Regions from separate parts of the Homo sapiens genome. Here region 1 is linked to region 2. Evidence: fine-mapped expression QTL. A gene starts in region 2. The other region holds a variant in brackets. All regions are shown on one strand. Distances are from middle to middle. Region 1 has its middle 18 kb from the start of TMEM174. Region 2 holds the start of FCHO2-DT (FCHO2 divergent transcript).

Region 1 (5,380 bases), 200 kb before region 2:
TGATGAATAGAATAATGCCCTTTTTTGGGGGTGACTTCTCACCCTATTAGTTCCCTGTAAAGCTGGTTGTTAAAAGAGCCTGGTGCCTCCCCACTGTTTTTCTTGCTTCCCCTCCTGCCATGTGATCTCTGCACACATGAGCTCCCCGTCTTCCATCATGAGTGAGAGCAGCCTGAGGCCCTCACCAGAGGCAGATGCCCAGTCATCAAAATTATAAGCCAAATAAACTTCTCTTTATAAATGACTCAGCCTCATGTATTCCTTTATAGCAGCAGAAAATGCACTCAGACACCAACTGAACTGAAAACTACCTTGATGGGGCTGGAATTTAAGTCACAGCCACTGCCATTTCCAGCAAATGATAAGGTGAGCCTCCCAGAGGCCCAGCTCTTGGTGTGAGAAGCTTCTGGATGGAGTAGGTCTGCAGTGGGCTTGCTTCTGAGCTCAGGAATTTATGTACTTGTATGTTAGTTTCCACTTCAGAATAACCACACACTTAGAGGCTTAAAACTACATTCATTTATTCGTTCACGGTTCTGTAGGTCAGGCATCCCTCTGTATTATCTGGAGGCTCAGGAAATAATCTGTTCCCAAGCTCATTCAGGCTGTTGGCCGAATTTGGTCCTAAGCAACATAAGACTGAGGTTCCAATTCCCTGCCAGAAATTCCTTTCTGCTCCTAGAAGCCCCCCACATTCCTTCTCACTTGGGCCGCTCCATCTTCAAAACAGCAATAGTGCTGCAAGACTAGCCAAGCTCTTGAGCTTCAAGTCTCTCTGATTTCCCCCTTTCTGCCCTACTCTTCTGCCACAACAGCCATGGAAAGTTATCCGGTTTTAAGGAGCCATGTGATTAAATTACACCCACCCAGATACTCCCTTTTTGTGGGTCCACTGTGCCGTATAACATAACACAATCATAGGAACGATGCCACATGTTCTCAGGCTTTGAGGAATAAAGATGTGGGATTTTTTTTTTTTTAGCGGGGAGCATTTTTAGAATTCTGCCTGCCACATTCTGTTTCTGTTGCTGAGACCCAAAGAGAGTTAGTAAAGGACGAATGAGTCTGCTAAGAGTGACCAGGGGACATGTTTGTCCAGGCCTCATCAACATTGCTAAGCACGTTCAAGTAACAACACTGCAGTGGGTCTTGCAGGCCTTCACATGTCCAATTTACTCTACTGCAGCGGTTCTCCAAGTGGGGGCCCAGAACCAGCAGCAGCAGCACCTGGGAACTTGTTAGAAATATATATTTTGGGCCCCACCTCGACCTACAGAATTAGAAACTCTGGAGATGGGGCCAGAGGTCTGTGTTTTAGCCAGTCCCTTGGGTGATTCTGATGCTTGCTCAGGTTTGAAAACTATTTCTCTAAGGTAGGTCCCCAGTTTCCTTTTCTATGGAAGTAAAAGTTGGGGAGGAGTCAGATAGGTAATCTCTAAAATGACTTCCATTTCTAACAACGTATGATTTGTGAATATTACAAAAAAGATTACACTGTAGAGACCAAAGAATGCACATATATGTCAATTGTGTGTGTGTGTGTGTGTGTGTGTGCGCGCGCTTCCATGCATGTCACGGTTAAGAGTACAGGCTTTGGAGTCTTTTCTACAATCAAATTCTGGCTTCTCCAATCACTAGCTATGTAAATGGGCCAGCTGCTTAGCCTCACTGAGCCTCAGTTTCCTCATTTATGAATGATGGGACCTACATCATAAGGTTATCAGGATCAAGTGAGATCATACAGAGAACACATAGCGTAGTAAGTTCAGTGACTTTCGGCTATAATTACTTCATCCTGTTCAGTTTCTGGAAACTTTCTCCTTGAGTGCTTGAGTCTATGGTGGGGGTAAAGCACCCAGGCCCTTGTCAGGAGGCCCTGAAGGCAGCCCCGGGAGGCACTGCCTGGGGACTGAGGATGAGCTGCTCCTAGGCCTGAAGGCAAAAGTGAACCTTCTCTGATTCCTAGAGTCAGCTTAAGTCCTGTCACTGCAAAGGAAGACATCTTGGTAAAGCGTGTGTATATAATCCCACAGCCACCATGATCTCCTCCTCAGAGATCATACAACCCGAGGCAGAAAGCACGCATCTCAACACCAAGTCGGCTGAGATGTGGAGAGCGGGGCTGGAAACCCTCAGGGGCATTTGCAGAGTTTTTATTATATTTGTTATTATTGGTTTTTGTGTTTCATTGTTGTTTTTGTTTGTTTTACATGTTCAAAGGAACAGAAATAGTTAAGGCCTGGAATAGAGTCAACATGTGCCTCTGTAAAGTTGAGGTAGGTCGGGAAGTGTGTCACCGGGGGAACATAAAGCAACCCCCGCCCCTGCCCTGGCTCACAGGCCTCACCAGCGGAGCTGCGAGAGGTCTTTCCAGAGCTTGCTGAGAGGCCTGAGTGGAGATGAAGACCCTGTGAGCCAGAAGTGTGGGAGAGAACAGCCTCCTCGCACAGGCCTCTGTCCTCCAAGGGGAGCTGTGCTTTTCTCAGCCTGCTGGCAGTTGCCTGTGGCACTGAGGCACTGAGGGAGGGAAGGCAGAGACCACCCAGTGTGAATTGCTGCTGCCTGAAATGGAAACTGTTCTCCCAGCCATAGGCAGGCAGAGCCAGGAGGGGCTATTCCACAGCTGCTCCCCACCCGCAGCCCATTCCCAGGCTCCACATGGCTCCCTCAGCCTCAATGCCACCAAGAGAGCTGCTCAACCTGCGAGGCACTAGCCCGTCTGCTAACAACCACAGAACGCTCTGGGAGGGATGCGGCTGGGTCTCCTTTGCCTCCTCTGAGCCACAGAGATTGGCCCCCCGGGGACAGGTCTTCCGATTTGGGTTCAATCTCTGGCTGAGGTCTTAAGCAGTTTTTCTATGCTTGATGATATGTGAGTGAGAGCCTGAGAACTCTTCCTGCCTCCTCTTGGAGAATGTCTGCCAGCTCCACATAGGAGGTAAGCTGTTCCAGGAATCGTGCATGTGAATTC[G/A]GCTTCATAGTTTTGGCTTCATAGATGGCTTCATAGTTTCAAGATTAAGGGCCAAAGATGAATTCACAACGGTTCTTGCCACCCAGTACTTCATTTATTCCTCTTTAATGTCCTCTATATATTAATCCATTTAGGTCCTTTCATGCAGACCAAAGTTGTCCAACATTGGAGTAATACTTTCTTGTCCCTTTGGTCCCCTCTAAAAAGCCCACCAATAATTTGATTCAAAGTAGAAGAACTTTGGATAACAGAGCGTTCTGCAATACTAAACAAGGTTCATAAAGTGCCACTCTGGAAGGAGTCTTAAAGACCAACAGCCAGCACCACGGATATATTTTTAAATGGTGCTGAGTAAGAAACGTTAGGAAGCAAATGAGGACTATAACATAATGTAATATATGTAAATTTTAAATAAATACACAAAATAATAATCATATCTTATAGAACTACATACCTATTCAAGGATAAATATCTTTCACATTGATGTAGTGGCCTGTTGGGAAGAAAGGAATTAGTGCTGGGAATGGAGAAGGAGGGAGGGAGAGAGGAAGGGAGGAAGGAGGGAAGGAAGGAAGGAAGGAAGGAAGGAAGGAAGGAAGGAAGGAAAGAAGGAAGGGGAAGGGAGGAAGGGAGAGGAAGGGGAACAGGGAAGAAGGGAGGAGAGGAAAGGGAAGAATTTAATAATGATGATAGCAGATTATGTCTTGAAGAATATGGAGTAACTCTAACATAAGTTAAAAAGGAAGCAAGCCCTAAATTAAACCTTTCATTTTACAGATGGAGAAACTGAGGCTCAGAAAGATGAACTGTTTGATGCTGGGATTTTATTGCTGTTCAGAGGCAGAAACCAGGCATTTTGACTTCCAATTCAATGTGCTTTCTACTGCATCAAACTGCTACACGTATACTTATAATGCCTCACTTCCTTCCCTTCTAATGAGTAATTCATCTAAGTATAGTTTTAACTGGAGAGGTTGATCATTGCTGGCCCAATTCATGGTCCCTCTCCCAGAGAAGCCACCCACCCCTACTGAAAGACTGAGGCCTTGTTGGACACCAGGTGACCCGGATCACCTTCTCTTGGCCGATGGGCCTGAGGTGGGAAACTGATTCAAGGGCAGCCCTTCCAGAGACAGGGTGGGGGTCACCAAGCATCCTGGTTTGCCTTGGACTGAGGGGGGTCCCAGGATGCAAAACTCTCTGTGCTGAAACTAGAAAAGTTCTGAGCCACCTGGGACAAGCTGGTCATCCTGGCAGGGAGGGACTTAGGACCTGTAAGGCCAGCTTCAAAAATAGATTCTCAGTGAGAAACAGGGAATCTAGCAGACCGAGACTGTTGGCTGCAATAGAAGTGCCGTGGTGTAGAAAGAGGGCAAGGGGCACTAAGGAGCTTCCATACGGGTCCTATATAAACAAAACTCAAGAGCAGAAACTTCGAGAAGTGGAGGACACTGGTTGACCAAGAGAGGAGAAAAGGGTCTATCTTTGTTTAAAGACAAGCAGATACCTGCCCGCAAGAGAAGGACTCTGCTGCAGAGAGGATAAAACTCTCGCATTGGCCCTTCATTTCAGAGGCACACGGTGGCAAGATGGGGGTGCAGATCTCCAAGAAGAGGAAGTTTGTCACTGATGGCATCCTCAAAGTGGAACTGAAAAAGTTCTCACTCGAGAGCTGGCTGAGGATGGCTACTCTGGAGTTGAGGTCCAAATTACGTCAACCAGAACAGGAATTAATACAGGAGCTTAAAATAAATTATTTAGGCAGATAGTGAGGGTAAGAGAATCCTCGGCAAGACTTCTCTCTTAACAAAAAGCAGCCCCCGAATCATTTATTTTCTAACAAAGAGCAGCCTGTAAAATTGAGCTGCAAACATAGATAAACAAGCTGGAAGCTTGCATGGAGAATGCCAGCAGCTGTGCCAATAGAAAAAGGCTACCCGGGGGTCAGGCATGTTCAACATGGAGGCTCCATCTTCCCTTTTCTTTGTCAACCACATGTACAATAAAGGAACAGGCAACATGGCACAGGCCAGGTAGAGAACCCATCACATAAAAAATAAGGGTGGTATGGCCAGTTTCTTTACAAGCTATGTAAATGACACACCTGGTCCCACCAATCGAAACCGTCTGCTCAAGCTCATCTATAAAACGCTGTGCATTTCACCATGAAACTGAAAAACCTGCTTGGGAGCCCATCTCTGCAGGAGAGAGAGCTTTTTTCTTTCTTTTGCCTATTAAACCTCTGCTCCTAACCTCACTCCTTACGTGTCCACATCCTTGATTTCCTTGGTGTGAGGCAACGAACCTCGGTTACTACTCTAGACAAATGACGCTGCTTCAAAATCATAATCTTAGCCACCAAAACACAGAATGTTCTTGGTGAGAAGGGCTGGCAGATTTGGAAATTGC
Region 2 (5,380 bases):
CCTAATGCCTAAAATTGACAGGCTAATCCTAAAATTCATCTGGAAATGCAAGGAACCCAGGGCAGTCAAAATAATCCTGAAAAAGAAGGAAAAAGCTAGAGGACTCATACTTCCTGATTCCAAATTTGCTATACAAAACAAATTTGTAATCCAAACAACAGCAATCCAAACTGTGTGTTACTGGCTGTCGTAAGGGAAGACAATGGAATAGAATTGAAAATACAGAAATGAATCCATACATTTCTGGTCGATTGATATTTGACAATGGTACCACAATTCAACGGGGAAAGATGAACCTTTTCAACAAATGGTACTGGGACAACTGGATACACAATTGCAAAAGAATGAAGTTATACCTTTCCCTTGCACCATACACAAAAATTAACTTCAAATGGATCATAGAACTAAACAGAAGAAGTAAAACTATAAAACCCTTACAAGAAAACAAGAAAAAAGGCGTAATTTTTGGGTTAGGCAAATAATTTTTGGGTTAGATGCAATAAAAGCACAAGTAATAGAAAAAAATAGATAAGATGGACTTCACCAAGACTTCACGAGAAATAAAAACTTATGAGTTACTTCAAAGAGCAGCATCAAGAAAATGAAAAGGCAGGCCACAGAATGGGAGAAAATGTTTGCACATTATGTATCAGATAAGGTGTGTATCCAGAATATTAAAAAAAAAAAAACTCTTACAACTCAATTATAAAAAAAGACAACCCAATTTTTAAATGGGCAATTAATCTAAATAGACATTTCTCCAAAGAAAATATAAAAATAGGCAATAAGCACATTAACTGTGATGTTAAGCATCAAAGAAACGCAAATCGAACCACAATAAAATATTAATACTACTTCACGTTCACTCACTATATTATAATAAAAAGGACAAATAAGTGTTCGTGAGCATGTGGAGAGGAACCCTCAGATATTGCTGGTGGGATTGTAAAATGCTACAACCACTTCAGAATAGTATGGCAGTTCCTCAAAATGTTAAACATAGAGCTACGATTTGACCCAGGAATCCCATTCCCAAAAGAAATGAAAACATATGTTCACACAAAAACTTGTACAAAAATGTTCATGCAGCATTATTCATAACCCAAAAGTGGGAACAACCAGATGTCCATCACTGATTGGATAAATATTAATAAAATGTGGAATGGAATATTATTTGACCATAAAAAGGAATTAGTAGTGATACATGCTACATCATGGATAAACTTTGAGAACATTATGCTAAGTGAAAGAAACTGGTCACCATGGCCCCATTTATAGGATATGTCCAGACTAGACAAATGCAGAGAGGCAGAAAATACATTAGTTGCCTAGGCCTGGGGCAGGGGGAAAATGGGGAGTGACTGCTAATGGGTCTAGGGATTCTTTCTGGGATAACGAAATTGTTGTAAAACTGATATGGTGATGTTTACACAACTCTATGAACATATGAAAAAACCTCTGAATTGTACTACACTTTAAATGAGTGTATTGGTACGGAAATGTGAACTCAATAAAGCTGTTTAAAAAACAAAACACCTAAGGTCTAGTATATACGTTCTTTGTGGAAAACAAGGTACATTCAAGACAAATAAATAACTATGAACTGATCTGATTACTAACCAAGACCATGCTTGAGGCACTTAGAATTAAGAATTTAACATACATTCCTTACTAGCTAAAAGATTACCCCTTTAAATATGTCTAAATCTCAACGAAAATGGACCTGCAGTACTTGCAACTGTCAGGGCATAAAATGGGATTCACGAAAGATACCTGAGTAAACACGTTCCTTTCCTGTACATGGCTGAACTGTACTTCCCATTACAAAAAAAAAAACAATAACTGCAGAAAAATACTCCACCGGGAGCCGGAGAAATTCTCAAAGAAGAATCTAATACTGAGCTAAGACAAGGGGTGGAAAGAATGAGGAAGGGGAAGGAGCACAGAGTAGGGGGAGGTCTCCATGCATTTAAGCCCAAGGAGTCCAGTTACATTAAATCCAACTTTTAAACGCTTTGTGAACAGGCCCAGAGGCAAAGTCCTGGGCGCAAACCCACGAGCCGAGCTGCGAGGCTGAGAGGAAGTGCTAGTCCAGCCCAACCCCGCACTGGATTTGGTGTGGAAACCGTCAGAGGTAAAAGGGATCGCTCAGATGGGGGGCCCGCGGTGAGGGCAGGAGGCAAAACCCCACCGCCCGGCGCTCCCAGCCAGCGCGCAGCGGGAGGCGGCTGTGCCGCGGGCCCGTCCTTCGCGTCCGAGCTGCCGCGCACGCCCCGCGCGGAGCGCGGCACCGGGAGCCTCCGGTGGGGCTGGGTCCCGTCTCCCGCCCCATCCGGCGCTTTGTCCCAGCCCCGGTGGCCGGCGGCCCCGCTGCGGGCCCCCGGGCCGCGGTGACAGCCCCCGTCCCCATAGGGCTGCGAGCCCGGGAGTCCCTATAGGCTGGCGACCGGTCGCCCGCCGGACCTCACCCAGGCGGGACGCGGCAGGAGGACGCTCGCCCTGCCGGAGGGGCCGCCGCCGCCGCCCGAAGCGCACGCAGGCCAAGCTCAGGCGCCAAAAGCCTTGGACTTCGAAACACACGACTTCCAACATCCTAAGCTTACCCAAAAATTCTCGACGAAATACGCCATGACCATCGTGCCGCCGCCGCGCCGGGTTCCGCGTCCGCGCCCGCCCGCCGCTGTGTAAACACGGCCCGGCCCCCACAGCACCCCCGCCTTTCGCCGCCGCCGCCTTCTTCCCAGAGACCGGCCCGCACCTTCCAGGGCGCATGCGCCACCTAGCGGCTGCCGCAGCTGGGCGAGCACTTAGACGCCACGGCCACGGTGTGCGCATGCGCCCTGTCCCCATTCTCGGGTGTTGGTAGATCTCTCTGCATCCCGGGCGCGGCTGGGTTGAGTGTTCTCTTAGGAATGGTGGAGAACTGGGTCCTTGAGGAGTCACCGGGGAGACTGCTCGCACTGTTTGTGGTGCGACGGGCACTGGCCCAGGGACAGAGGGAAGAGAAGGGCCAGCCAGCGGCAGTGGAGTCGGCAGGCTGGCTGCCCACTCGCTTTCTCTCCTCACAAGACTCGCTTCCCCGGCCTTCGAGGATCTCGAACGGACTATAGTCTGGACTCGCTGGGCTGGAGGAAACTTGGCCGCTGGCCACCCGGAGGAGACTGAGAAGCCTTTGGTCAACAGGGCGCCTTTCCTTGAACCAAAACAAAACTTTCCGAAGCCGGAAAGGAAACGCCCAGTGTCGCCTGAGAGCCCTGGAGCTGCGCGAGACCCAGGCACTGAGTGCGGCCTCGGCCTCTGACCTCTAACACGCCGGGAACAAACCAGCTGGGGCGGCCCGCAGGCCTGCGGGAGCGGAATGTGACCCGAAACCGACGGACTTCCTGACCCATAGTCCATAGTTCTCTTCAGCAACTTGAACATTTTGGAAAAAGAAACAAGTCTTAACATGCCACGACCTAATGGAAAAACTAAATCCCCTTCCTACACCTTGCTTTCCAAAAGTTAAAAAAAAATAGTTAAACGCTATTAGAGGTCTCAAGTTCACTGTCACCAGATCAGCTAGGTCCAGAATCTTCAGTTCTTGAAGCCAAGCCCTACAAATAGATTTATTGTAGCATATCACACCTCTTCAGGTGACTTAAAACAATGAGAATTCATGAGAAATTATCTTCATCCTCAAGTAAAAATCATGAGGTGCCTTTCACATGGATGAAATTGTAAGTGCTTGTTGAACAAGGAATAATTGGATAATGGTATTGTGGTCATACTTTTTAAGAATATCTGTTAGAAAGATATAGGATGCAGAACATCTAGGATTTGCTGAAAGTCATTTATTATGGATAGGGGTATGAGTAAGGTCATAGATGAAAAGGGATGAAACAAGATTGGCCATAGTTGCTCTATTTTTGTGTATCTTGTTTCTTTATTTTGTTTCTTTAAAAAGTCCTCATATCACTGACATTTACACTTAGTTTTAGGGAAAGTCAAATTTAGAAATAAGCTACAGCTCTCTAAGCTATCGGTCTAACTGGATTTTTCTCGATGCTGAAGAACTTTTTAAAAAATTCAGCCATCTAGGTCACACAGCAAATACATTTGGCATTAAATTCCTAGTATCACTAAAGTACTCCCTCCCACCGCCGCGCCCCCCCCCTTCCCCCCGCACCCTTAGACCTGGGCAAGAGAGACTTCTATCCTGGACTCCATGCTTTAAAGGAACTTACATATCACACACACACATTAATTTAAAAAAAAATAGGTGCCCCTGCCGCTTGTGATCTGATACTGAACACTGGCTCATAACCATAAATTCCCTCTCCCAGTGAAGAACACTATTCAGGCCCCAGGAAAACTCTTCTTCCTATCTTTTGTCTTCTGTCCTCAAAACAAACGGTGAACTCCAAAAGCAGTGAAAATTTGTACATAGCATGGCTGCCCATTTCAGAGACTGCTTTGGAGTCAGAATTTGAGCAGCAGAAATGCTTAGGTAAGAGAGAAGACAAATTAACTTGTCAAATCCTTCATCTCAGCTTGAATGCTATAGATTCCTGCATGACAAAGTATTGTTTCTCAGTAGTATCAAGCATACATTTTCCTTTTGTTAGTGTTCCAATGTGTGGCTATTACCTACAGACAATTTAGTATAGTATTCACAATAGTTACTGGCCTTCATTCGCATTCTTCTGCTCCCCTTAAATTTAGGAGTAGATCTGGAATGAAAATAAGTATTCTGAGTATTTCAGGTATTTGCAAGGTTCATTAGGGCCGAAACACCATATCCTGTAATTGCCTGATGTTTAAGTTGTGGAACTTTATAGTAAACAGTGATTAAGGTGACTAAATTTCAGACAAGACTGTGTAGTATAGGAAGAGCGTGGATGGTATCAGCCTCCTTCTGCACTCTCAAGTGAGGTTTCCAGGGATGAACATACATTCTGGCAGAGCATAGATAAGCTCCTGAGTGGGTAGTGCTGGGTGGGGTTACAGGCATGAGCCACCGAGCTTATATGCGTTAAAGTGTTTGTGCCACACTCTCTTAGACTTTGCTTATCAAAATGTATTTCATTTTGAAATTATTAAAAACCAACATAGATAACAACAGTGTACAAGTCACTGCCTATAATACCTGTCACTTAAGAGTCAGTAAATGTTCAGTGAATGAATGAATGATGACATCTATCATAGAAATGTCAAGGTAGATGAGACCTTGAATATGTAATAATTCCATTATCTTTTACACATTCTCTTTTTTTTTTTTTTTTTTGAGACAGAGTCTCGCTTGGTTGCCCAGACTGGAGTGCAGTGGTGCGATCTCAGCTCACTGCAACCTCCACCTCCCAGGTTCAAGCGATTCTCATGCCTCAGCCTCTCAAGCAGC

The links. PIP is the estimated chance that this variant, and not a neighbour inherited with it, causes the effect. A credible set is the group of variants that fine-mapping cannot tell apart.
Region 1: its variant is the best candidate, but not a certain one, in a credible set for the expression of FCHO2-DT in whole blood (INTERVAL, PIP 0.74).

Annotation. Positions count from the first base shown.
Region 1 is chr5:73,152,917-73,158,296 of GRCh38, reverse strand. It overlaps the pseudogene LOC101060067. Among named protein-coding and RNA genes, the nearest start is that of TMEM174, 18 kb to the left of the region's middle. RefSeq lists enhancers at 2,047-2,547, 2,548-3,048. The variant G/A (reference allele first, on the strand shown) is at 2,972.
Region 2 is chr5:72,953,353-72,958,732 of GRCh38, reverse strand. FCHO2-DT (FCHO2 divergent transcript) reads left to right here and starts at 2,849. Exons shown (of 2, transcript NR_186392.1): 1 at 2,849-3,719. It overlaps FCHO2 (FCH and mu domain containing endocytic adaptor 2), which reads right to left and starts at 2,692. Exons shown (of 26, transcript NM_138782.3): 1 at 2,604-2,692. The coding sequence starts at 2,636. RefSeq lists a silencer at 2,100-2,799.